4 linked regions of the Homo sapiens genome follow. The protein of the gene in region 1 interacts with the protein of each later gene in a pairwise test. Each region holds a gene or a part of one and is shown in the gene's direction. Other genes may lie near its edges.

Region 1 (6,811 bases):
ATAACTCTTTCAACCAATTGCCAACCAGAACATCTTTAAATCCACCTATGACCTTTAAGTCCCCGCCCCTTCAAGTTGTCGCTCCTTTCCACACAAACCAATGTATATCTCACATGTAATGATTGATGTCTTAAATCTCCCTAAAACATATAAAACCAAGCTGTAATCCAACTACCTTGGGCACATGTTCTCAGAACCTCTTGAGACTGCATCACAAGTCATGGCCCTCACATTTGGCTCAGAATAAATCTCTTCAAATATTTTACGGGGTTTGGCTTTTTTTGTCCAACAGTCTGTCCCTGTTCCAGTACTGTGCCAACTGTAGCTTTATAATTAATGCTGATCATGGCAGCACAACTTCTCCCACCTGATTCTTTTCTAGGAACATCTTTGTTCTTCTATATAAAATTTAGAATCAGTTTGCCAGGTTCCTTGGGAAAAAACTGACAGGAATTATATTGGAATTGTATTACATTTATAGATCAGTTTAGGGGGAGTGGACATCTCCATGATTTCTTTGAATGTTGCTTCCTTCCCATTTTCCCTATTGTATACTTCTGGAAATTCAGTTCAAAATTTTAGACCTAGCAGGGCATAGTGTCACCTATATAGTCCCAGCTGCTTGGGAGGCTGCTGGGGGAGAATACCTTGAGCCCAGGAGTTTGAGGCTGCAGTGAGCTATGATCACACCACCGCACTCCAGACTGGGCGACAGAGTGACCTTGTCTCTCAAACAGAAAAAAGACATCCGAATCTCAATTATATTGTATTTTTCTTTATTTTTATTTTCTTTTTATTTTTTTGAGACAGGGTCTCACTTTGTCACCCAGGCTGGATTTGGAGTGCAGTGGCATGATCATGGCTCACTGCAGCCTCAACCTTTCTGGGCTCAGGTGATCCTCCCACCTCAGCCTCCTAAATAACTGGGACTACAGCTGCATGCCACCATGCCCGACTAATTTTTTGTATTTTTTGTAGAGACAGGTTTTTGCCATATTGCCCAGGCTGATCTCGAATTCCTGGGCTCAAGTGATCCATCTGCCTTGACCTCCCAAAGTGCTGGGACTACAGGTGTGAGCCACTAGGCCTGGCCTGTATTTTTAATTTTTAGAAGTTCTATATGGTTCTTTTAAGATCTTCTTGGTTATACCTACTATGTACCCACAAAAATTAAACATTTTTAAAAAATCTCCTTGGTCATTCTTTATAATCTCTTATTCATATTTTTAAGGCCCTCATCCCTTAACTCAGTATTTCATAATCTATCCAAAGTCTTTGCAAATCTGATTCTTTTGTCTGCTGTTTTTGCCAGTAAAGCTCGTACTGCCTTGTTTCCTTGCATATTGAGATTTTTTTTTTTTTTTTTAAAACTATTACCTTATTTATTTTTCTTGGAACTTTATCTTGGGAATTCTTTGAGGCCTGGTTTGAAGTTGTTTTCCTCCAAAGAGGGTTTGCCTTTCCTTCTGCCACCTCACCACCCCAGGAACACTTTAAATTAAATATTTGGCTTTAGAGTTTTCTGCCCCTACAGGTAACTGTGAATTCAGATGGTGAACTACAGGATTTAGTCAGACCTGAGGTGGAACCCTCACTCACTTACTATGTGACCTGGGGCAAGTCATTTAATCTCTCTAAATCTGTCATATCACCTGTGAAATAGCAATAATAATACCTACTGCCTAAGGCTACTGCAAGAATGAAATGGGATCATGTATATAAATAAAGGCTTGCCTGGGGTTCTTTCTCAGCGGAGATCGCTGCCTGCAATTCTCTTCCTTGCTTCCTTTTGCCCCAGCCAGTGGGAGCAGCCTGGTGGTGGCCCCCAGCCTCAGTTCTTCCACTCACTGTAGGACCTGAGTTATAGTGGAAGCAGAGTGCTTCACATCTCACTCCTGTGGCTCACTCTGCCTTTAGTTTTGAGATGACTGAGCCTCCAAAAGCCTTTGAGAGATACCTCTGCCCTCAGTCTTGGCTGTGGTTTGGAGTTGTCTTGGAGGTCACTTGGAGCTGGGTAACAAGAAAAATGACATTTGACAGAATTGTTTTCTTTGTCAGATGCTGCAGGAATTTTTGGGGGAGTTTGTTGGTCATGATTGCTTAAAAAATCCTTTTTTTAAGTGGGACATTAGTAACAAGATGTTAAAATTGTTAATAATTTTTTTTTTGAGACATGGTTTCGCTGTGTTGCCCAGGATGGAGTGCAGTGGCATGACCACAGCTCACTGCAGCCTCAACCTCCCAGGCTCAAGTGATTCTCCCATCTCAGCCTCCCAAGTAGCTGGAACTAGAGGAGCGTGCCATCATGCCTGGCTAATTTTTAAAATTTTTTTGTAGAAACAGGGTTTTACCATGTTGCCCTGGGTGGTCTAGAACTGCCGGGCTCAAGCAATCCTACTGCCTCCCAAAGTGCTGGGATTACAGGCGTGAGCCACCGCGCCCTGCCCCACATCATGTGGGAAGGGTGCGGTGGCTCACGCCTGTAATCCCAGTACTTCGGGAGGCTGAGGCGGGTGGATCACGAGGTCAGGAGTTTGAGACCAGCCTGACTAACATGGTGAAACCCCATCTCTACTAAAAATACAAAAATTAATCAGGCGTGGTGGTGGGCGCCTGTAATCCCAGCTACTCGGGAGGCTGAGGCAGGAGAGTCGCTTGAACCCGGGAGGCGGAGGTTGCAGTGAGCCGAGGTCATGCCATTGCACTCCAGCCTGGGCAACAAGAGTGAAACTCCATCTCAAAAACAAAAAACAAAAAACAAAAACAATGGTAGCGTATGCTTTGCTGACACAATTATTTTATGTCCCTAGGTTGGTTATGTGAAGTTTTCTGACTCTTCCCTGCTATTTAGGAAGGGCTTCAAAGACCTGAATACTTAGTAGCCAGTGCAGCAGGGTTTCAGGGTCTGGCCTGGGGAGGGGAGGGGAGGGGGAGGGCAGGTTGCAGCTCAAGTGGCTTTAGAGATGCTGAGCCTCTCCTTCTGTCCTGCCCAGGACGCAATGAGCCCCTGAAGAAAGAGCGGCTTAAGTGGAAGAGCGACTACCCCATGACTGACGGGCAGCTGCGGAGCAAACGGGATGAGTTCTGGGACACAGCGCCTGCCTTCGAGGGCCGCAAGGAGATCTGGGATGCCCTCAAGGCTGCCGCCTATGCTGCTGAAGCCAACGACCACGAGCTGGCCCAGGCCATCCTGGATGGAGCCAGCATCACCCTGCCTCATGGTAAGTGGGCAGGGCCAGGGCTTTATCCCCGCTGGAGCTAGGGGGTCACCAGCACAGTTTGAGGGTGTTGAGGAGTGTGGAGCGGTGGGGCAGGTGGTTACTCACGTATTCATTCATTCAAGCACCCCTTACTGAGCATGGACCAGGAGTGGGTACACAAAGAAAAAGAGACACAGTCTATGCTTGCCTAATGACATGACAGAAAGACAACAAACCTGCAAAGCAGTGTCACAAATGCACTTTGGGACCCCAGAACATCCAAGGCACTGACCTTTTTATTTTATTTTTTTTTTTGAGATGGAGTCTTACTTGCTCTGTTGGCTAGGCTGAGGCTCAGTGGTGGGATCTCGGTTCACTGCATCCTTCACCTCCTGAGTTCAAGCAATTCTCCTGCCTCAGCCTCCTGAGTAGCTGGGATTACAGGCATGTGCCACCATGCCTGGCTAATTTTCGTATTTTTAGTAGAGACGGGGTTTCACCATGTTGGCCAGGCTGGTCTCAAACTCCTAAGCTCCAGTGATCCACTGGCCTCAGCCTCCCAAAGGCACTGACCTTTTATTGGGTTGTTATGTGCTGGACACCGAACTAGAAACTTCCACTGCATTAGCTCACGTAAGTTCATAGCAGTCTTATGGGGCCATGTAAAGCAGAGGGTGACAGTGGAGCCCTAGAATCACAGACTTGAGTTTCTTTTTTTTTGAGACGGAGTTTCCCTCTTGTTGCCCAGGCTGGAATGCAGTGGAGCGATCTCGGCTCACCGCAACCTGCGCCGCCTGGGTTCAAGTGATTCTCCTGTCTCAGCCTCCTGAGTAGCTGGGATTACAGGCATGCGCCATCACGCCCAGCTAATTTTGTATTTTTAGTAGAGACAGGGTTTCTCCATGTTGGTCAGGCTGGTCTCAAACTTCCAACTGCAGGTGATCCGCCCGCCTTGGCCTCCCGAAGTGCTGGGATTACAGGCGTGAGCCACTGCGCCTGGCCACAGACCTGGGTTTCAGTCTGAATGTTTCCCTTTCCTAACTGTCTTGGCTTTAGCAAGGAGCTTCTCGAATTTAGAGCCTGACTGCCTTACGACTGTAAAGGGGAGATGATTATTAGGATTCAGTAAGATACACATAACATCATTTAGTCCAGTCCCAGCACTTAGTAGGTGCTCAAGAGACAATAAACATATTTCTCCATGCATTACGTTTTGCCAGTAAGGACACTAAGGCCCATGGAGAGCAGAGCTGTGCTATTTCATTCATCCCTGTAACCCCAGCACCTGGCACATGTGAAGAAGTGAAAAATAATATGCCAGGATGAACAAGCCAGTACCTGGTGGAGCTGGGATGCCAGCTCAGGTCTTCCTGACTCCAGCCCTGTACACCTGGTCATCAGGCTGTCCTAGGGAGATCTGACTGTGGGGTGGCCATGGCAGGTGTATTAGTCTGCTCAGGCTCCTGTAACAAAATACCACATGCTGGGTGACTTAATCAAGAGACATTTATTTTCCACAGTTCTGGAGGCTGGGAAATCCGGCATCATGGTGCTGGCTGGTTCAGGTTTTGGTGAGGACTCTGTTGCTGGCTTGCAGGTGTCCGTCTTCTTGCTGTGTCCTCACATGGGGAGCGAGTGGAGAGTGAGATAGTGCTCTAGTGTCTCTACAAGAACTGTAAGCCAGGGCAGTGGAGCACACCTGTAGTCTCAGCTGCTCGGGAGGCTGAGGTGGGAGGATTGCATGAGCCCAGGAGTTCGAGACTAGCCTAGGCAACATAGGGAGATCTTGTCTCAAAAGAAAAAAAAAAAAAGGACCATTTTTCCCATCAAGGGGTCAGAAGGTCAGGGCCCCACGCTATGACCTCATTTAACTTTATTTATTTCTGTATAGGCCCCATGTCCAAATACAGTCACATTGGGGGTTAGAGTTTCACCATATGAATTTGGGGGGACCCAAACATTTAATCCATGATAGTGGATCCCCAAGCTGACTCTGACAGCCCTGCCTCTCCTACAGGCACCCTCTGTGAATGCTACGATGAGCTGGGCAATCGCTACCAGCTGCCCATCTACTGCCTGTCACCGCCGGTGAACCTGCTGCTGGAGCACACGGAGGAGGAGAGCCTGGAGCCCCCCGAGCCTCCACCCAGCGTGCGCCGTGAGTTCCCGCTGAAGGTGCGCCTGTCCACGGGCAAGGACGTGAGGCTCAGCGCCAGCCTGCCCGACACAGTGGGGCAGCTCAAGAGGCAGCTGCACGCCCAGGAGGGCATCGAGCCATCGTGGCAGCGGTGGTTCTTCTCCGGGAAGCTGCTCACAGACCGCACACGGCTCCAGGAGACCAAGATCCAGAAAGATTTTGTCATCCAGGTCATCATCAACCAGCCCCCACCACCCCAGGACTGATGGGCCCACGGACCCCTGGGAAGAGGCCCCGCCTGGAGCACTAGGCCCCCACCCTGCTGCTGCCTTCCAGTGCTGTCATTTTCTTCAGGGGCCCTCCCCTCGGTGTGGCTGGTGGGTGAGCCGTGAAGGGACCCTGCCTTTCAGGGCACTACGCGCCACCAGTTCCCGGTACCCAGGGAGCAGGCAGCCACACACGGGCCTTGCAACCTTGTCAGAGAAAAGGCGAACAGGGCCCTCACCCTGCCTGTCTCCCGAAGCAGGTTCGAGCCACAAGGGCCAACCAGGAGGCCCCTGGAGCCCAGATCTGTCATCTGGTGCTGCCAGCTGTGCTCACTCTGGTTTTCTGCTCAGGGTCTGAAGCAGCTGCTGTCTCCCTCCTCTGCCCCCATCCCCTGGCTCTCCCCTGGGCACAGTGCCACTCCCTTGGAAGGGAGGGAACCACCCGTGAGCCCCAGGGCTTGGGAAGCCTGAGGCGGGCCTCTGCCTCTCCCTGCCCCCAGCACAATTGGCAGAGATGAGGCGGGTGGTGGACAGCTGGGCTGTCGTGGCAGGGTCTGCACAGGGCCATGTCCTGGCTGTAACCCAGGCAGTGGGAGGTCTGCAGCCTGGTCATGGCCTCCACAGCAGGTCCCTGTGGACAGACATATCTGCATATTTATCAATAAAGCCTTTTGCTCCTTCTCGCTTGCCTGGCATTTGACTGAATTCTCCTGCAGCTCTGTGGGGCCCCTGGAGCTGTTCTGGTATGGGAACAGGTGGATGCCTGGCCTCCCCAGCTGCTCTGGGCATGCAATCTCCAGCAGAGTGAGCCTGGAACTGCCAGTCTTCTGGGCCCTGATCCCAGCTCCCCTGGTGTCCTCATGAGTCCTCAGGAAAAGCCACTCTTTGCTTTTCTTTAAAGCAGAGCCATGCTGCCTGCCCTGCCTCCTCCATCAGTTGCTGGGAGGATTAAGCAGGAAGACAGATGTGAAAGTGCTTGCAAGGCGAAGACAGCACCTCAGGAAGGTGGTCTGCTCCTGCAGCAAGAGGGGCTAACTTCCGGCCCTGGAGACGCTGTAGCCATCGTGATGTTAAAGCAAAATCTCTGACAGATTTAGATCGTGTGTCAGAGGTTTGTGTCAGCTTCCCAGCAAGGGAACCAGAAAGGAAAAGGAACCGGTTCCTCATGCTTCCTAGGGGAATGCATGCATATCTGAAGAGAAGGGAAT
Region 2 (6,075 bases), on another chromosome or scaffold:
GGCCTGATGGCTGAGAAGGACCCAGGACCTGAGTTTGCCAGGCAAGCCGAGGAAACGGTCCTGTAAAAGGGGGAGTGGCATGTGGACTCTGGTTATGAGTTCAGGGTGGCTGGGTGTAAGGCAGGATATCACCAGGAGTCGGAGCTGGGAGAGGTGGGAAATGGCCAGAAGCAACATCCAGGAGCACCGGGCATCCCTTGCTTACCCTCCTCACCCTTGCGCAGCAGGCAGTATCAGCCCTGCCTGAAACTTGCTCTGCAGATTGTGGGAAGAGAGTGGATCCATGTTCTAGACCCAACAAACGAACACGTGCAGTTCCCAAGCCTTCCTCACTCCCTGTTTATGGGAGACTCCGTGTTTCTCACATTTCTTTTAGTCTTAGAGACAATTTGGTCAGAAGACATGGGTTTAAATGAAGGGACAGAGGCTGGGCATGGCGGCTTACACCTGTAATCCCAGCATTTTGGAAGGCTGAGGCAGAAGGATGCCTTCAGGTCAGGAGTTCGAGACCAGCCCAGCCAACATGGTGAAACCCCGTCTCTATGAAAAATACAAAAATTAGCTGGGTGTGGTGGCAGGCACCTGTAATCACAGCTGCTGGGGAGGCTGAGGCATGAGAATCACTTGAACCTGGGAGGTAGAGGTTTCACCGAGCTAAGATCACCCCACTGCACTCCAGCCTGGGCGACAGAGCAAGACTCCATCTCAAAAAAAAAAAAAAAAAAAAAAGTCTTGGCATGGTGGCTCATAGCTGTAATCCCAGCACTTTGGGAGGCCAAGGTGGGTGGATTGCTTGAGCTCAGGAGCTCAAGACCAGCCTGGGCAACATGGTGAAACTGTCTCTACCAAAAATAGAAAAAAATTAGCTGGGCATGGTGGCACATGCTTATAGTCCCAGCTGCTAGGTAGGCTGAGGTGGGAGGATCACTTGAGCCCAGGGGGTTGAGGCTGCACTGAGTCGAAATCATGCCACTGCACTCCAGCCTGGGTGACAGAGTGAAACTCTGACTCAAAAAAAAAAGACACATTACTTGGCCCCCATAATTGGTTTCTGATTGGCAGGTCTGGTGTGGGGTCTAAGAACCTGCATTTCTGACCATTTCCCAGGTGGACCATTGACTTTCTACTGGGAATGGGTTGGACCATTTTCCAACCAACACTGCTGGTCCCCAAACCTGCACTCTAGAAGCACCACTATAGAGCGTTTCCCCTTCTAGGAAGGAGATGGGTCCTCCCTGAAGGGGCTGTGCAGGGGAGGGGATGATGGGCATTGATGGGCATTGTGACTGCAGTCCTGCACTGTGGATCTGGCTGGGCAAACATAGATAGGATGGAGGGGTGGGGTGGGCCACGTGATACCTCACTCTCTTGTACTGTGAACTGTCACCTGCAGAGCAGAGATGCCGCAGGCCCGGCCCTTAGAAGGCGCATTCAGCCCCATCTCCTTCAAGCCAGGCCTCCACCAGGCTGACATCAAGCTGACCGTGTGGAAAAGGCTCTTCCGGAAAGTTTTGCCAGGTGAGGCCCTGACCCGTCCTCCTTCCTGAGGGCTGCCGCCCAGGGCAGGTGGCAGTTCATCGATTGTATCAGAGAGATAATAAGCTACAGAGAACTCAGATGGAGGTTTGTGGAGGGTCCTAGTGAGAGCATGGGACTGAGTTTCCGAACAGCTTGGGTTCCTGCTTACTCTTTCCTTTCCTAGCTGCTGGCTGGGCAAGTTGTGTCATTTCTGAGCCCAGGTTCCTCATCTGTAAAGTGGGGCTATTTGCACCCACCCGGCCAGGCTGCAGAGCTTGTATATAGACATACGTGTGTTGCAGCTTAGTGCTTCATAAATGGTATTAGGTTGGTGCAAAAGTAATTGCAGTTTTTGCCATTACTTTTAAAAGTAATGTACTTTTTGTCTGGGCACAGTGGCTCATGCCTGTAATCCCAGCATTTTGGGAGGCTGAGGAGGGCGGATCTTCTGAGGTCAGGAGTTCAAGTCCAGCTTGGCCAACATGGTGAAACCCCGTCTCTACTAATAATACAAGAATTAGCTGGGCGTGGTAGTGTGCGCCTGTAATCCCAGCTACTCAGGAGCCTGAAGCAGGAGAATCACTTGAACCAGGGAGGTGGAGGTTGCAGTGAGTTGATATCGTGCCATTGCACTCCAGCCTGGGCAACAAGAGCAAAACTCCGTCTCAAAAAAAAAAAAAAAAGTAATATCCTTTTAAAAATGTCCTTCCTACTCAAAGGACAAGTGGTCTTCAAAGTAATGGCAAAAACCGCAATTACTTTTGAACCAACCTATTCTTGTTCTCTGTCAAAAACAACTCAAACACATTTCATTCCTTTATTACTAGCATGCTGTCTTGTACATAAGGGAGACTGCTAACAGAGCGATTTCATCCACCAAAAGCAAAAATAGGGTTTATATAAAAGAAGGGGCTGGGCACGGCGGCTCACGCCTGCAATCCCAGCACCTTGGGAGGCCAAGGTGGGAGGACTGCTTGAGGCCAGGAGTTCAAAACCAGCCTGGGTAACATAGTGAGACGCCATCTCTACAAAAAATAATTAGTGGGGTGTGGTGTTATGTGCCTGTGGGCCCAGCTACTGAGGAGGCTGAGGCAGGAGGATTGCTTGAGCCCAGGAGTTGGGAGGCTGCAGTGAGCTATGATTGCACCACTGCACTCCAGCCTGGGTGACAGAGGAGACCTCATCAGTAAAAAAGAAAAGAATGAAAAAAAAAAAAAAGGAAAGATAAGAAGGAAAAAAATTGCAGTTTGTGAACTGTGAATCCTGTTTGTACATCTCACATTTCTTTTTTTTTTTTTGAAGGAAAATTTGTATTATTTTCATGTACAGAAAACTCAACAGTGTACGTTTTACCCAGTTTAGTGGTAGTTTCTTTAGTCTTTGCCTTTTTGAGCTTGGCAATGTGAGCCACAGACTTGGGACCCAGGACACTGCCTCCCCAGTGATGGCGGATCTCATCACATTTGTTGTTGTAATTGGTCCTGGTAGCTTCCACCAGCTTAGCCCAAGCTCCTTTGTCTTCCAAGTTAACCTGTGTGAAGGCGACAGTGGTGCAGGTCTTCCTGGGGACTAGACATCCCAGTCTTGCCTTCCCCTTGATGATGCAGTCAGGGACCCCACTTTACACACAGGCACAGGCAGGAAGACAGCCAGCTTGATGGGACCCATGTTGCGTGGAGTCACCACCAGCTGAGCCTTCCTTTTTTTTTTTTTTTTTTTGAGACAGAGTCTCTGTCACCCAGGCTGGAGTGCAGTGGTGTGATCTCAGCTCACTGCAACCTCTGGCTCCTGGGTACAAGTGATTCTTCTGCCTCAGCCTCCTGAGTAGTTGGGACTATAGGCGTGTGCCACCACGCCCGGCTAATTTTTGTATTTTAGTAGAGACGGGGTTTTTCATTATGTTGGCCAGGCTGCTTGCAAACTCCTGGCCTCAAGTGATCTGCCTGTCTCAGCCTCCCAAAGTGCTGAGATGACAGGCATGAGCCACTGTGCCTGGCCCAGCTGAGCGTTCTTGTTCTCCATCAAGGTGGTGACGGTGTTAATTCCTGCTCCAAGGACAGGTGGCCTCTTAGTGGGGACATCCCCTTTGCTGGCAGCTTTCTTCTCAGTCAGGGCCAACAGTCTCTGCTTCTTCTCTTGCTTTGCCCCTGGTCTGTACTTCTGGGCCAGCTTAAGCAGCTGAATAGCTGTTTGGCGGTCCAGGGCCTGGGTGAACTGGTTAATAGCAGGAGACAGTTTCTGCTACTTATAGAGGATGGCTGTCCGCCACTGCACCCTGACCGAGCAGGACCATTGCACAAAGTGGGCGAGGTCCGTTTTGGCCTGGAAGTCCTGTCCAGTGCCAAAAGTCTTAGGCCTTTTCTCAAACGGGATAAACCACTTTCTTGGCCTCCTGCTTCTTCACGCCAGCAGGGGCCGGAGCCACCTTCTTCCCCTTGGCCTTCTTTCCTTGCGGCAACTTGGGTGGCGGGAAGGGGTGGGAGGCGGGCAGGGGGGAGCACATCTCACATTTCTGGGGTAAACGGATCAGCTGGTAACTAGCAAAAAGCTCAGGTGGGCTAGTTCGTCCTTGAATAGGCTGACTAGGCTAGCAAATCCAACAGCTGCAGTTGTTATGGGTTCTCCAGAAATCCCTGAGGGCTGAGCTATAGGCTCACAGGACAGGTGTCTTCCGGGTCCTTCCCACAACACCTCTGTGTCAGGCAGGCAGGCCAGAACCCCGAGCCCAGTGTCCATTTCTTTCTCCAGCCACCTCAGCCCCCCACAGCCCACCAAGCTGCTCCCTTTTATATAAACACTGTTTTTGCCTTGGGTGGATGCAATCAGTCTGTGATTGATCTTCCTTATGTAAAACTTCATTCATTCATTCATTCATTCATTCATTCATTCATTCAGGGAGCAGCCCTGTACTGGCCCCTTCTAGACCCTGGGGCTAGAGAGATGAGGAAGACACAGCCCCTCTCCTTGGGGAGTTCAGGGCCTCCATCAGCTTCTGTGGGCCGGGTCTGCTGCCCTCCACGTGGCCTCACAGACCCTCTGTGATCTCCCTCCCAGCCCCGGAGCCTCTCAAGTTGGACCCTGCCACTGCCCACCCACTCCTGGAGCTCTCCAAGGGCAACACGGTGGTGCAGTGCGGGCTTCTGGCCCAGCGGCGAGCCAGCCAGCCTGAGCGCTTCGACTACAGCACCTGCGTCCTGGCCAGCCGCGGCTTCTCCTGCGGCCGCCACTACTGGGAGGTGGTGGTGGGCAGCAAGAGCGACTGGCGCCTGGGGGTCATCAAGGGCACAGCCAGCCGTAAGGGCAAGCTGAACAGGTCCCCCGAGCACGGCGTGTGGCTGATCGGCCTGAAGGAGGGCCGGGTGTACGAAGCCTTTGCCTGCCCCCGGGTACCCCTGCCCGTGGCCGGCCACCCCCACCGCATCGGGCTCTACCTGCACTATGAGCAGGGCGAACTCACCTTCTTCGATGCCGACCGCCCCGATGACCTGCGGCCGCTCTACACCTTCCAGGCCGACTTCCAGGGCAAGCTCTACCCCATCCTGGACACCTGCTGGCACGAGAGGGGCAGCAACTCGCTGCCCATGGTGCTGCCCCCGCCCAGCGGGCCTGGCCCCCTCAGCCCCGAGCAGCCCACCAAGCTGTAGGGCCGCCCGGAGTCCTGCCGGCCCACAGGCCCATCCCGGCGGGGCACCGGGGACTCGCGGGCTTCTGCTGGGTCCCGCCTGAGGTGATATCGTCACTGTTTAGGAAGGTCTTCAGGCCTGTGTGTCCCTGGAACATGTAATGATAGGGAACAGGACCCCAGTCCCTTTCCCCTCAGCCAAGGGTGTATTTGTAAACTTCGGCCCCCAGGCCTTGGCAGCCAGGGACACACTGAAATCCCCATGGTTCCTGCCACTTGCTAACCATGCTATCTGCGCAGACGCTTCCGAGGGCAGAAATAGTCCCATGTATACCTTTTCCATATTACTGTGAACTTTCAACTACTATCAAGGATAATAAATTTGACATTATTTCTTTCTCTTTAAATGATTTGCACATATTAGTTGCTATACATACTGCTTTATGCTCGAGTCTTTTTTTTTTTTTTTTTTTCCTGAGATGGAGTCTCTCTCTGTCACCTAGGCTGGAGTGCAGTGGCACGATGTAGGCTCACTGAAACCTACACCTCCCGGATTCAAGTGATTCTCCTGCCTCAGCCTCCCGAGTAGCTGGGATTATAGGCATGTGCCCCATACCCAGCTAATTTTTGTATTTTTAGTAGAGATGGGGTTTCGCTGTGTTGGCCAGGCTGGTCTTGAACTCCTGACCTCAAATTATTTACTTGTCTCAGCCTCCCAAAGTGCTGGGATTACAGGCGTGAGCCACCGTGCCCAGCCTCGAGTCTAGTTTCAGAGACAGGATCTTGCTCTGTCACCCAGGCTGGAGAGCAGTGGCACAATTGTAGCTTACTGCAGCCTTGACCTCTCAGGCTCAAGTGATCCTCCTGCCTCAGCCTCCTGAGTAGCTGAGACAACAAGTGTCTGCCACCATACCCAGCTAATATTTAAATTTTTA
Region 3 (7,028 bases), on another chromosome or scaffold:
TTGAAAGTCCAAATTACTTCTTGATCCATGGGCTGCCGATTGGATGTTGTGTTAGCGGACGTGAAAACAACATGAATCTCATTTTACATCTCTATCAGAACTTTTGGGTGATCAAGTGCATTGTCAGTGAGCAGTAATATTTTGAAAGGAATCTTTTTTTCTGAGCAGTAGGTCTCAACTTAAAATTTTCAGTAAAGGGTTGGGCACGGTGGCTTACACCTGTAATCCTATCACTTTGGGAGGCCAAGGCAGGTGGATCACCTGAGGTCAGGAGTTTGAGACCAGCCTGGCCAACATGGTGAAGCCCAATCTCTACTAAAAATACAAAAAAATTAGCTGGGCATGGTGGTGGGCGCCTGTAATCCCAGCTACTCGGGAGGCTGAGGGAGGAGAATCGCTTGAACCCGAGAGGCAGAGGTTGCAGTGAGCCAAGATCATGCAGTTGCACTCCTGCCTGGGTGACAAGAGTGAAACTCCATCCCCCCAAAAAAAACTTCAGTAAAGGCTAGGCACGTTGGCTCACATCTGTAATCCCAGCACTCTGAGAGATCAAGCCAGGAGGACTGCTTAAGGCCAGGAATTCAAGACCAGTCTGGGCAATATAGCAGGACCCCATCTCTACAAAAGGTAATTTTTTTTAATTAAAAACATTCAGTATACCATGCTGTATACAGGTGTACTGTCATGTAGGCTTTGTTATTCCATTTCTAGAGCACAAGGAAAGTAGATTTAGCATAATTCTTAAGAGCCCTAGGATTTTTGAAATGGTAAGTGAGCACTGGTTTCAACTTAAAGTCACCAGCTGCCCTTGCTTCTAATAAGAAAGTCATCCTGTCCTTTGAAGCTTTAAAGCCAGGCATTGACTTCTCTCGAACTGTGAAAGCCCTGGATAGCACCTTCTTCAATAGAAGGCTGTTTGTTGACATTGAAAATGTGTTGTTTAGTGTAGCCACCTTCATCAGTAATCTTGGCAAGATCTTCTGGATAACTTGCTGCAACTTCTGCATCAGCACTTGCTGCTTCTCCTTGCACATTTTTGTTACAGAGATGGCTTCTTTTCTTAAAACAACCTACCTAACTTTAAACTTTTCTTCTGCAGCTTCCTTACCTCTCTCAGCTTTCATAGAACTGAAGGAGTTAACAGCCTTGCTCTGGATTGGGCTTTGGCTTAAGGGAATCATGTGATCTTATATCCAGATCACTAAAATTTTCTCCATCTCAGCAATAAAGCTGTTTCACTTTCTTATCATTCATGTGTTCACTGGAGTAGCACTTTTAATTTTCTTCAATAACTTTTCCTTAGCATTCACAGCCTGGCTTGGTGTTTGGCACAAGAGGCCTAGCTTTCAGCCCATCTTGGCTTTCAATGTGCCTTTCTCACTAAGCTTAAACATTTTTAGGTTTTGATTTAAAGTGAGAGACATGTGATTCTTCTTTCACATGAACACTTAGAGGCCATTGCAGGATTATTAATTGATATAATTTTAATATCGTTGTGTCTCGGAATAGGGAGGCCAGAGGAGATGGAGAAAGATGAGGGAATAGCTGGTAGTGGATCAGTTAGAACACATAAAATATATTTATCGATTAAGTTGTTCGTCTTATATGGATGCAGTTCACAGTGCCCCCATAACGATTACAATAGTAACATCAAAGATCACTGATCACAGATCATACTAGATATAATAATGAAAAAGTGTGAAATATTGTGAGAATTACCAAAATGTGACACAGAGACATGAAGTGAACACATGCTGTTGGAAAACATGGTGCCAGTAGACTTGCTCAACACAGGTTGCCACAAACCATCTATCTGAAAAACATACAATGTCAACAAAACACAATAAAGCGAGGTGCAATAAAATGAGGTATGCCTGAAATTGTTTAAATAATATATTGCTTTTGATATGTATATATTAATAATACCTCTAAAGTGTTTGAAATATTTTGTTCTCTTACGTAAATGAATGGTGTTAGCAAAACTAGGGAACATATTTTTTATCTTAGAGATTAGATTACCAGCATTTGAAGCAGTGAGGCTTCATTGTACATTTATTTTTATGTTACGTATTGCTTGGTATTTGTTCCTATGGCCTTTCATGTATGTGTGTTCTGCCTTCCATATTAAACTGGGAAATCCTTGTGGGACAGAGATTTGTCTTCTTTGTCTTCTGGACCCCAAGTATTCACAAATCAGTATTAGCACACAGTTATTAATGTGTTTATTCTTCCTTTTTTTTTTTTCTGAGAGAGTCTTGCTCTGTCGCCCAGGCTGGAGTGCAGTGCATGATCTCGGCTCACTGCAACCTTTGCCTCCTGTGTTCAAGCGATTCTCCTGCCTCAGCCTCCTGAGTAGCTGGGGTTACAGGCGCACACCACCACACCTGGCTAATTTTTGTATTTTTAGTAAAGACAGGGTTTCACCATGTTGGCTAGGCTGGTCTTGAACTCCTGACCTCAAGTGATCCACCCGTCTTGGCCTCCCAAAGCGCTCAGATTACAGGCGTGAGCTACTGTGCCCAGCCAGTTATTGATGTTTATTAACTAATGCAAGACAGGGGATACCAAACCGTAACAGGAATGTGTGATTTGTTCCTATGCCACCAGTCTGGAACTCTCTGTACTTATCCTCAAGGAGAGTGAGATATGTGGTTGGTACTTGGGGGACAGAGTAAAGAATTGATACAATCCCTGTCCCTTATAGGGAGCTCCCAGCATCCTTGAGGAGCAAAGACAAGCATAAAAGAAATCATTGGGAAGTGATATAAATGACCAAGCTTCATGATGACCAGAAGTTGAAAGTAGGGATTAGGTTGGGAGAAGTGCATTCAGGTCCCGCTGGAGCTCTTCTTGCACTGTGTGACCCTCAGTTTATCCTATCCCTATTTTATAGCTGTGGAACTTTGGGGAGGAGGGGGAACCTTTTGCCTTCAGGACCACTGAATACCAGGACCAATATTGCTTTCTTTTCTCCTTCCTTCTAGGATGTCAAAAGTACCCTGGAAAAGTAAGTGATTGTTGTATCTCTCTGAGTGAGTTAGGTCTTGGCTTAGAGAGGAGGGGTACAGTCAGGAGTTTGGGTTGGGGGTGAGGTTGGGAAAGTCATGTAGTGTGTCTGGGCAGGGTATGGGAGAATGTTCATTGTGCCCATGAAGCCAGTTAGAGAACAAATTATTGGGAATAATAATCCCTTTTCCCCTTTGAACATCAGGACTTCTTGAGAAGGAGAATGATAAGGTAGAATCAGATTCTACTTGTGCCAGTGGGTGGAATTGTGTCCAAACAAGATGGCAGGAGGAAGGGGTTGGGAGAGCAGGGAGGGCAATCATCCATTTGCATGAAATACAGGAATATTCCTAGAAAGTTCGGAGGCTCACTCTCAACGATCTGTCCACGGGATCATAAGGCTCTCCTTGGATTAGTAAAAGAAATCAACAGGTGAGCTTTTCAGGGAGGAGGAAGAAAGTGGGAAGATGGAGAATTTTAATTTCTCCCTAAAAATGTTAACATCTGAATAGTCACTTGGCTGGAGCTTCTCCCTAACCCTGCCCTTTCTTCCCCTATCTCCCTATCCCTCCTAGATGTGAAAAGGTGAAGACCATGGAGGTGACTTCAGTATCCATAGAGCTGGAAAAGAACTTCAGCAATTTTCCCCGACAGTACTTTGCCCTAAGGAAAATCCTTAAACAGCTAATTGGTGAGTTGTTCCCAAAAGGAAACTAGAAGAAACCACTAGAGAGAAGAAAGTTTTTAGGTCCTACCTTATATGGGTTTCAGTTATCCTATGTCTCACTTTTCTTACTCCCACACACACCTACCCCTTTATCTGGCTTTTAGTCTCACCCTGAGTCACAGAACTTGGAGTGAGAGGAAGCCTTAAGCGTTATCTACTCTTAGGTCCATTCTTTTCTAAATAGAGACCCAGAAAGGTTAAATAATTTGCCAAAGTCATCGGGTAGAGTGGTTATATAATTTACCATGTAAACTTGCATAACCTTCAAAGGCCGGGTGCGGTGGCTCACATCTGTAATCCTAGCACTTTGGGAGGCCAAGGCTGGTGGATCACTTGAGGTCAGGAGTTCGACATCAGCCTGGCCAACACGGTGAAACCCCATCTCTACTAAAAATATAAAAATTAGCCAGATGTGGTGTTGGGCGCCTGTAATCCCAGCTCCTCTGGAGGCTGAGGCAGGAGAACTGCTTGAACCTGGGAAGCGGAGGTTGCAGTGAGCTGAGATCACACCACTGCACTCCAGCCTGAGGGACAGAGTGAGATTCCATCTCAAAAAAAAAAAAAAAGAAAGAAACTGAAAGGGAGTGTCATTATATTAATGTGAATATGCAGGGAAAATAGTCATAAACCAGGCCAGTTCCTGGAAAACACACATGGTCACCCTATCCCTAGACCATATGCTGTCTTGCTCGGCATCCTTCTTAACACTTTCCGTTTTTTTCTGCCCCTCAGACTACACCTTGTACTTCTCTACATAGTGAGATAAATGATAATGTCAGAGGGAGATGAAGAGAGGACCAGGCGGGAACCTAGATTACCAGCCACTGCAGACTCAAGAGATTATTATCTGTTTACTTTAGGGTCAGGGTGAGAAGTGAGCCATTGCTTTCTCCCCTTCCTTAGGTGACACCATGGATTGAGAAAGTTAACCAAACCAGGTTGTTCTGGGGACCTTTAAGGGACCAGGCTCTGTAAAGGCAGGCTGGAAGAGTGAGGCAGGGGCATTTAGCTATTCCCATCCTCATCTAGCTCCCCACTCTGGCTTCTCCCGCCAGCGGATGTGACCCTGGACCCTGAGACAGCTCATCCTAACCTAGTCCTGTCAGAGGATCGTAAGAGCGTCAAGTTCGTGGAGACAAGACTCCGGGATCTCCCTGACACACCAAGGCGTTTCACCTTCTACCCTTGCGTCCTGGCTACTGAGGGTTTCACCTCAGGTCGACACTACTGGGAGGTGGAGGTGGGCGACAAGACCCACTGGGCAGTGGGTGTATGCCGGGACTCCGTGAGCCGAAAGGGCGAGTTGACTCCACTCCCTGAGACTGGCTACTGGCGGGTGCGGCTATGGAATGGGGACAAATATGCAGCCACCACCACACCTTTTACCCCTTTGCACATCAAGGTGAAACCCAAGCGGGTAGGCATATTCCTAGACTATGAGGCCGGCACACTGTCTTTCTACAATGTCACAGACCGCTCTCATATCTACACCTTCACTGATACTTTTACTGAGAAACTTTGGCCCCTCTTCTACCCAGGCATCCGGGCTGGACGGAAGAATGCTGCACCACTTACCATCAGGCCCCCAACAGATTGGGAGTGACAGGTTGGGATGTGGGAATGACTGGGGTGAGGCAGGGTCAAGTGCTACGGGCCTCCTTCCCGTGTCCTGCTGGAACGTCTTCGTGTCCACCTGGGTCCAGTCCTGAATCATCTTGGAGAAACACCTTGGTTTCTAGGATGGTTTTGTGTGGAGGGGGAGGTAGGACTGGGCTGGATGAGAGAGCACAGCTGTGACTTCCTCCTAACTGTCAGGGTGGGGAGCTGGTTCCCAGAGGATTGTCTACCCTGAAGTCCATCAGGTTTTCTGTTGCACAAGGACGGGTCAGGAAGGAAGGAGAGGCTTTTCCAGAAACAAAAAATCTGTGAGGGTCTGACTTGCTCAAACCAGAGGAGGAAACAGAAACCCCTGCACATCTTTTTAGGGGGTTCTTTGACCCAGGATAGTCTTGCTTCTTGAGGTAGATCACAGGGGTCTGTGTACCTCTGAATTCATGAGAGATGAATGACAGATGCTCTCATGGGTCTAGATATTGAGGAGTTTTTCTGAGGGCAGAGATTGGACATCAACAAGGCTAGAAGGGTCAGGGAAGTGGGCTAAAGGAACAGATTCCTAGAGATTAATGAAGAGGAGGGAGGTTTCTTTGGTCTTCTATTCCAAGGGTAAGGTTGCGATTATGGGTAAGATTGGCCAGAGGTAGGAATGTGGGGAGAAGGAGAGGCTGAAAAGAAAGCAGAGGAGAACCCAGGTCCCTGCCTCAGCCTTCAGCAGAGTTGGCTTATTGCCTGCCTCTATACCAATAAGTCAGTCACCTTGCTCCTCTCCAGAGGCAAAGTGGAAGAGATCCTGCAAGACACATCTATCCTTTCACAGTGTTCCCAAGGGAACTTGGAAAGGAGAGTCAGGTATTAGAGGAAAGAGAAGGGTATTTGTATACAAAGCCCTGGCCTTAAAGAATGTTACTTAGTAGCTACTCCCAAATTGTCAGCCTTCTTACCTGGCCAAGGTGTCCAAGCCAGAAAGGAAAAAAGGTTATGGAGTCTTTCTCACCCTAAGGACAGGGTGGAAGAGGGTGGTATATAGGGAAGGGCCAGATAGGCAACTTCATTTGGCTTGTGTGCATCTGGCCTGGAACTGGTGTTAAGCCAGGCTTTTGCTTGTTTGTTGCCATCCCTCACCCTTTGCCATTTCCCTTTTCAGAGAATGTAAATGATTTTCATGTTAGGCCAAAATAAACAACTTATAGGGTACATATGTTGTCATAAAAGGTAAAAGTGATGCATGCCAAACCAAACTAAACCAATTTGGATTATCTGCTATTCGGGTAATCTTCACAGAAATGACTGAGAGAAGAATCTGCAGTTTACTGAGGGCATTTCAGTTCCTCCTACCACCTCAACAGGACTTTGTCCAGACTCTCCTCCTCTTACCTTTGTGCCTTGACTGTGGTTCTTTGTGGCAAGATACTTTGGTTGGTTAAAATAATATGGAACAAAGGATCCACTGAAGTGATCTCTGTGTTGTGTGGTAATTTGGTGACAGCCTTGTACTGATGTGTAAGAATCACTGGGTGTTAGACATGCATGTTCCTGGGTCTCACCCTTAGTGGTTAGTCAAGGTCTGGGGTGGGCCGGACATCTACATTTTATTTATGAGACAGAGTCTCGTTCTGTCGCCCAGGCTGGAGTACAGTGGTGATCTCAGCTCACTGCAACCTCCGCCTCCCAGGTTCAA
Region 4 (7,339 bases), on another chromosome or scaffold:
TTCATGAAAGGTAGTGTGGCATCTCTTTCCTTCCAACCTGCGAAAGGAAGATAAATCTTGGGGTCCTACAATTACTAAGCTAAAAGAAAAGTCAAGTTGGAAACTGCTTAGGGCAAACCTGCCTCACATTCTATTCACAGTCACTTCTCCGCTCACTGAGATAAATGCGTATCTGATTGCCACCTTTGGAGAGGCTAATCAGAGACTCAAAATGTCTGGGCGCGGTGGCTTACGCCTGTAATCCCAGCACTTTGGGAGGCTGAGGTGGGTGGATCATTTGAGATCACGAGTACAAGACCAGCCTGGCCAACATGGTGAAACCCTCTTTTAAAAATACAAAAATTAGCCGGTTGTGGTCGTACACACCTGTAATCCCAGCTACTTGGGAGACTGAGGCAGAAGAATTGCTTGGACCTGGGAGGCGCAGGTTGCAGTGAGCCGAGATCACGCCACTGCTCTCCAGCCTGGGCGACAGGGTGAGACTCCATCTCAAAATAAATAAATAAATAAATAAATAAAATTTTAAAAGAAAGAAAGAAAAAAAGAAACTCAATAGAATGCAACCATTTTTCTCTCATCTACCCAAGACCTGGAAGCCCCCTCCCCGCTTCAAGTTGTCCTGCCTTTGCTTTGAGTTGTCTCACCTTTCCGGACCAATCCATCGTTCATCTTAGATATGTTGATCGATGTCTCATGTCTCCCTAAAATGTATAAAACCAAGCTGTGCTCTGACCACCTTGGACACATGTCATCAGGACCTCCTGAGGCTGTGTCACGGGCACACATCCTCAACCTCGGCAAAATAAACTTTCTAAATGAACTGAGACCTGTCTCAGATATTGGGGGTTCACAAACCACTTGCTCTGGGGAAACCAGCTGCCTTGTTGTGAGCAGCTCCATGGAGAAGCCCATATAGCAAAGAACTGAGACCAACAGCTAGGGAAAAACAGCCTCTTTCCAACAACTACATGAGTAAGTCATCCTGGAAGGGGATGCTCCATCCTCATTCAAACTCAGAAATGACTGCAGCCCCAGCTGATAGGTTGACTGCAACCTCATGTAAGATACTAAACTGAAATGACATAAGATAATGCTATGGTCTGAATATTTGTGTCCTCACATCCAAATTCATATATTTAAATTCTACCCCAGAAGGTGATTGATAGGGTTTGGATGTCCTGCCCAAATCTCATGTTGAAATGTAATCTCCAGTGTTGGAGCTGGAGCCTGGTGGGAGGTGACTGGGTCATGGGGACAGATTTCTCATGAATGGTTTAGCGCCATCCCGTTTGTGCTGTTCCTGTGATGAGTGAGTTCTCGTGAGATCTAGTCATTTAAAGTGTGTGGCACCTCCTGTCACCTCTTGCTCCTGCTTTGGTCATGTGACATGCCTGCTCTCCTTTTGCTTTCCGCCATGATTGTAAGTTTCCTGAGGCCTCCCCACAAACCAAGCAGATGCCAGCACCCTGCTTCCTGTAGAGCCTGCAGAACCCTTAGCCAATTAAGCCTTTTTTCTTCACAAATTACCCGGTCTCAGATATTCCTTTATAGCAATGTGAGAACAGCCTAACACAGTGATGATATCAGGAGATGGGGCCTTTGGGAAGTGATCTGGTCATGGGGTCAGAGCCCTCATGAATGTGACTAGTACCCTTATAAAGGATATAAGGCCAGCTGCAGTGGCTCATGCCTGTAATCCCAACACTTTGGGAGGAAGAGGCAGGAGAATTGTTTGAGGCTAAGAGTTTGAGACCAGCCTGGGCAACATAGCAAGACCCCCGTCTCTAAAAAAAATTTTTTTTAAAGCTGGGTGTGGTGCCATGTGCCTGTAGCCCCAGCTACTCAGGAGGTGGAGGCTGGAGGATCACTTGAGCTCAGGAGTTTGAAACAGTGAGCTATGCTCATTCCACTGCACTTTAGCCTGTGCAAAAGAGCAAGACTTTGTCTACAAGTAAATACACAAAAGATGTATAAGAGGGCCGGGCACGGTGGCTCATGCCTGTAATCCCAGCACTTTGGGAGGCTGTGGCGGGTAGATCACCTGAGGTCAGGAGTTCAAGACCAGCTTGGCCAACATAGTGAAACCCCATCTCTACTAATAATACAAAAATTAGCCAGGCGTGATGACAGGCACCTGTAATCCCAGCTACTCAGGAGGCTGAGGCAGGAGAATCGCTTGAACCCGGGAGGCAGAGGTTTCAGTGAGCAGAGATTGTGTCACTGCACTCCAGCCTGGGCGACAAGAGTGAAACTCAATCTCCAAAAGAAAAAAAAAAAAGGATGCATAAGAGAGACCCCTTGCTCCTTCCATCCTGTGAGGACACAGCAAGAAGGAACGGTTTATGAACCAAAATACTAGCCCTCACCAGACAGAATCTACTAGCACTTTGATCTTGGACTTCCCATCCCCCAGAACTGTGAGAAATAAATTTCTTTTGTAAGCTGCCCACCTTATGGCATTTTGTTAGAGCAGCCTAAATGCACTATGACAGATAATAAATGTTTTAAAGCTGCCAAATTTTGGGTTAACTGGTTATGCAATAATAAACCACTGAAGGAATATGCTACTATTTATTCATTTTATTTATTTATTCTCCTGCTGATGAACATTTGGGTTAACTTTGGGGCTATTATAATAAAGTTGCTGTGAATATTCTCGTATATGTATTTTTATAAACAATTGCACTCAAACTCTCTTGAGTGTATAACAAGGTGTCAGTTTGCTAGAACATAGGATTGGTATATGTTTAATCTTGGTTGATACTGCCAAATAGTTTTCCAAAATTATTGTAACAACTTACATTCCCATTATTATGTGCTGAATATATGTGTCCCCCAATATTTTTTTATGTTGAAGCCCTAACCCCCAGTGTGGCTGTACTTGGAGTAAAGCAGTAAGTAAGGTTAAATAAGGTCATAAAAGTGGGGGCATGATCCTATAGCTTCATGTTCTTATAAGAAGAGACACAAGAGAGCACTCTTTCCTGTACCCCCCAACACTGCATGCACAAAGAAGAGATCATGTGAGGACTGCAGCAGGAAGGTGGTCATCTGCAATTGAGGAAGAGAGCCCTCACCTCCAGAAACCAAATTTGCTGACACCTTAATCGTGGACTTCTGGCCTCCAGAACTGTGAGAAGATAAATGTCTGTTTTTAAGCCAACCAGTCTATAGTATTTTGTTATGGTGTCCAGAGTAGACTAAGACATCCATCAAGAATGTATAAGAGTTCCAGTTGTTCCACATCTTCCCCAACACTTGGTATTGTATTTGAAATTTTAGTCATTCTAGTGGATGTACAGTGCTTCCTCATTGTGGTTTTCATCTGCATTTCCCTGTTGAATCATGACGTTGAACACCTTTTCATATACTTATTAGCCATTTGAATATTCTCTTTTGTTAAGTACCAGCCTACGTCTTTTGCCCATTTAAAAATTTTGTCTTTTCCTTCTTGATCTGTAGGAGTTCTCAATATATTCTGCATATGAGTCCTTTGTCAGTATAACTATTGAAAATATCTTTTTTCACGGTGTCTTGCTCTTTCCCTCTTCATGTTTTTTTGATGAACATCTGCTAGAATGTTGGTGTTTGCAAAACTGTTTCACGCATGTCATCTTACAAATCCCTCTTCCCACTGACAGATATTCAGGCTGGGGCCATTGGTCTTTATCAGACTGGAAAACTGAAGCTCTGATCTGTGGCACTTGTGTTAAGAAGGATGCCCCCTCTACACACACTCATATTACTACTAGTGTGGCACTGGGTGGCTAAGCCTAGCAACAGACTTCCTCCATTCCACAATGGCATTAGGTTAGTGATCAAAATGTACTGACCATCAAAGCCACATTTACTAGGTCCCTGCTGATTTTCAGGTCCTGTGTGTGGAGGGACATAAAGGTGATCAAGACCAGAACCTGTCCCCAAACAGCCTCCAGTCTGGTAGAAGCACTTATGTACTAGAGAAGAATTCCTCTCTCTAAAGCATCCCCTAAGACCCTGCTTGACGCCAGGCTGACAGGAGGGGCGGAGGACAGAACTGAAACAGAAGTAGCCCTTTACCTTGAGGACCTTACAGACTGGCGAAGAGAGACCAAAAACCACCGGCCAGAATCACCCAAGGCAGCGAGAGAATTTCCCCCCAGGACAAAAGTATGAGCCAGGGGTGGGGAGGACAGAAGGACGTGTTCCATTCTAAAACAGTGAGCAGGGACTGTGGACCCACATTGCTCTGGGCTCAAATCACGACTTTTAGCACGGTTTTTACCTCTAGGTTCGTTGTGAGGGCTAAATGAATTCATATAAGTTAATTCAAGCTTGTGCATGCTTAGATAGTAAGCGCTGTGAACGCCAGCCAGTCTTATTCAAATATAGGGAAGGGAGGGTCACTTTTACTTTTAAAAAATAATAAAAGTAAAAGCCCGCTGAAGGGAAGCTTTAGATGAAGACGCGAACAAACCTGCCGCCACCGATCTAAATTAGAGGGCGAGGAGGGGCGCCGGGAAGCAGCTGGTGATGGACGTGCGCGCGCCCGAGGCCCCTTTACGTGCACGCGCCCGCTACCTGGTCTTGCCGAAGGCGTGACCGTAAAGGGGCCCGGCTCTGTCGTGAAAGGGCCGCAAAAAGGCCGAGGGCGAGTTGACGGCTGCGACTCCATTTTGTAGGCCGCTTATTTGTGTGCATCCACGGCGATTCTTCCCGCAGAGTTGTGAAGCGAAAGGCTTACAATTAAAAGGAAGAAAAAAAAATAAAGATAATTCGGGAGTACAATTGACAAAGCGTGTGGGTCGCTCAGCCTCCAGCAGTAACTGCTGATCTCCAGTTCTTGGAGGGTTCCGGTGAGAAGAACGCCCCTACTGCGGTACTGAGGAAGCGGCAGGAGGAGATGCGGCCCCTGGACATAGACGAGGTGGAAGCGCCTGAGGAAGTGGAGGTGCTGGAGCCCGAGGAGGATTTCGAGCAGTTCCTGCTCCCGGTCATCAACGAGATGCGCGAGGACATCGCGTCTCTTATACGCGAGCACGGGCGGGCGTACCTGCGGACCAGGAGCAAGCTGTGGGAGATGGACAATATGCTTATCCAGATCAAAACGCAGGTGGAGGCCTCGGAGGAGAGCGCCCTCAATCACGTGCAGCACCCGAGTGGCGAAGCCGACGAGAGAGTGTCGGAGTTGTGCGAGAAGGCTGAGGAGAAAGCCAAGGAGATTGCGAAGATGGCAGAGATGCTGGTCGAGCTCGTCTGGCGAATAGAGAGAAGCGAGTCTTCTTGAAGGAGGAGATCGGTGGTAAGGTCGGAAACTAGCTGGAGCTTGGATGAAACTCAGTAGTCGCCCTAAGCATGGTTAAACCGCGCCCTGTAAAAAGTTATGTTCTAGGCCTGCATCCCCCATTTTATTGCATCAAAAATTGAGCATTGGGAACAAAGTTGGGGTCAAGAGGAAAGAATGCGTGCTGGTTTTGTTAGGCGTTAGTATACCGTTTTTTTGTGGCCTCTCCCTCCCACGCTGTTAATTAGAGAAAGATAACAGTAACTTCGGTTTTGTTTTTGTGAAACATAAAAGTCAATTCTAATAGGGCAGTCGCCAGAAGTAGACCTGTCTAGGCACTAAGGGAGTTTGGGGAAAGCCAAAGAAGACCTAGGCCATAGAGCACAGTGGAACGCAGGCTGAGAACGCAGGGAAGGAGAAATAAAGAGTAAAGCCAGAGGCCATTACCTGAAATTTCCAGATTGTTCTATGAGACAGGTATGTCAGAGGACCGTGTCTCAAAGAAGTGGCATTCTTCTGGGTGGTTCACATTTATTTTTAACATCAGGATATGGAACTTTGAGAGTCAATGTCTTCATGGTAAATTTCTCCCAATTGTGCTTTAGGTTCACAGCTGAGGACTGTAGTCAACTGGTAAGGATGAACTGACACCTTGAGGAAACTGAAACAGCTTGTCATTTTCTCTGTTTTGTTTTTGTATGTTTTTTACCCCGATGTAACAGTCTCCCTTATGGTCAGTGATTGATGACCTCGATATGGATTTAGATTATCAAATGTGTTTGGTTTTGGAAATATAACTTTTGTCAAAGAAATACTCTCAGAAGAGAAATGGGGCTTAATTAAGTTGTTTTTGTGGTCACGTTTATTCTTGTTACTTCGCTGTGTTTTTGAAATGTTGGGCATGGCCTCGTATTTTGCTGTTACCTTTGTGACCTGATTGTTTTTTGGAACACGTCAAGACGTGGGATCAGAATCTTCCAACTTTAGAGGTGCAATGGAAGACACTACGCTACTTGGTTGAGCCTGGTGAAGAATGTATTAATGAGACTGCTTTGCATAAAACTGGGAAGAAAGAGAAGACAGTTGGAGATGGAAGATGGTTTTGTATATATTTTGGAACTTTAGTTCCTCTGTGAGACGAAAGAGGAGAGCTATGTTTTGTGGCACATTGTCTGATATATATTGTGTAACCTGTCAGGTGAGTTGATTTAGACAACATAGCTGACCTTTTATGACAAGGCAGTTTGAATAGGGACTATTGTAATACCCTCACACATTATAGGGGCATCAGAGAATGGCATGGAAGAGACAGTCTACAGAGAGCTTTAAGAGGCCGGAGAAAGGAAAAGACATTATCAGGGCCTGGAAAGTCTCTTCCAGTTCATCAGGGTAGTAGACCTGTCAGATTGGAGGTCAAAGTCAAAAGTATAATAAGTGTTAATTTGCCTTGAAAAACAAAGACCTAAAAAGCCTTTTTTAAGAAATAAATTTTTTGTTCACATGACCAAAGCCCCTCCTGTGTGTGTTAATAAAAGAATCATAAACAAATTTTTTTGGAATGGATGTTCTTCATTGAGTGTCATCAAATGGGGTTGAACTGCTTGTAGTTAAAGGCTCTTGGTAAGCCTTTAACTGAGGGAGAATTATTTCTGGAAGGTGCTATGGAGATGAGCTGACAGAACACTCAGTTCTGAAGAGAAAAACTTTCGGCCATCCTCTGGGCCAAGCCCCTGCTTTTCAGCAGCGGAAGTGTGTTTAGTTAACCAGTGGGAATGTAACTTGCTTCATATCCTATCCAAGGCACTAGGAACGTAAAGGTGAAGACATGGATGGGGCGAATATGTGGGACAGAAATGGAAACAAGGAATTGTGACATAGAGTGCGTGGATATCTTGTGGGATCCCTGAGGAGGGAGTCAACTCTTCGTAGGGAAGTGTGAATTCAGAGCAGGTGACTTACCTGGACCTGAAAAGTAGAAATGAATGAAGGCATATAAGGGACAGGGATCAAAGTGAGCAAAAGCCTTTCCAGTTCCAGCACTGGGGAGATGGCCATTGAGCTGGATGTTAAGGAGTG

Evidence for each region.
Region 2: the proteins of UBTD1 (region 1) and TRIM50 interact in binary tests that used the Homo sapiens proteins (3 or more experiments, as listed by UniProt).
Region 3: the proteins of UBTD1 (region 1) and TRIM39 interact in binary tests that used the Homo sapiens proteins (3 or more experiments, as listed by UniProt).
Region 4: the proteins of UBTD1 (region 1) and MRFAP1L1 interact in binary tests that used the Homo sapiens proteins (3 or more experiments, as listed by UniProt).

What each region holds. Positions count from the first base shown.
Region 1 is NC_000010.11:97,564,921-97,571,731, forward strand, and holds the end of UBTD1 (ubiquitin domain-containing protein 1), read left to right. Parts: intron 1-2,993; coding exon 2,994-3,221; intron 3,222-5,217; coding exon 5,218-5,603; 3' UTR 5,604-6,286; downstream 6,287-6,811. UniProt on the Homo sapiens protein: May be involved in the regulation of cellular senescence through a positive feedback loop with TP53. Is a TP53 downstream target gene that increases the stability of TP53 protein by promoting the ubiquitination and degradation of MDM2.
Region 2 is NC_000007.14:73,312,008-73,318,082, reverse strand, and holds the end of TRIM50 (E3 ubiquitin-protein ligase TRIM50), read left to right. Parts: intron 1-1,393; coding exon 1,394-1,518; intron 1,519-4,413; coding exon of another isoform or gene 4,414-4,454; exon of another isoform or gene 4,455-4,572; coding exon 4,573-5,162; 3' UTR 5,163-5,547; downstream 5,548-6,075. UniProt on the Homo sapiens protein: E3 ubiquitin-protein ligase that ubiquitinates Beclin-1/BECN1 in a 'Lys-63'-dependent manner enhancing its binding to ULK1. In turn, promotes starvation-induced autophagy activation.
Region 3 is NC_000006.12:30,336,924-30,343,951, forward strand, and holds the end of TRIM39 (E3 ubiquitin-protein ligase TRIM39), read left to right. Parts: intron 1-2,984; coding exon 2,985-3,007; intron 3,008-3,348; coding exon of another isoform or gene 3,349-3,438; intron 3,439-3,581; coding exon 3,582-3,697; intron 3,698-4,788; coding exon 4,789-5,336; 3' UTR 5,337-6,806; downstream 6,807-7,028. Other genes in the region: TRIM39-RPP21 protein, read left to right, coding at 2,985-3,007, 3,582-3,697, 4,789-4,973.
Region 4 is NC_000004.12:6,707,173-6,714,511, reverse strand, and holds MRFAP1L1 (MORF4 family-associated protein 1-like 1), read left to right. Parts: upstream 1-4,646; 5' UTR 4,647-4,882; coding exon 4,883-5,266; 3' UTR 5,267-5,281; intron 5,282-5,868; 3' UTR 5,869-6,811; downstream 6,812-7,339.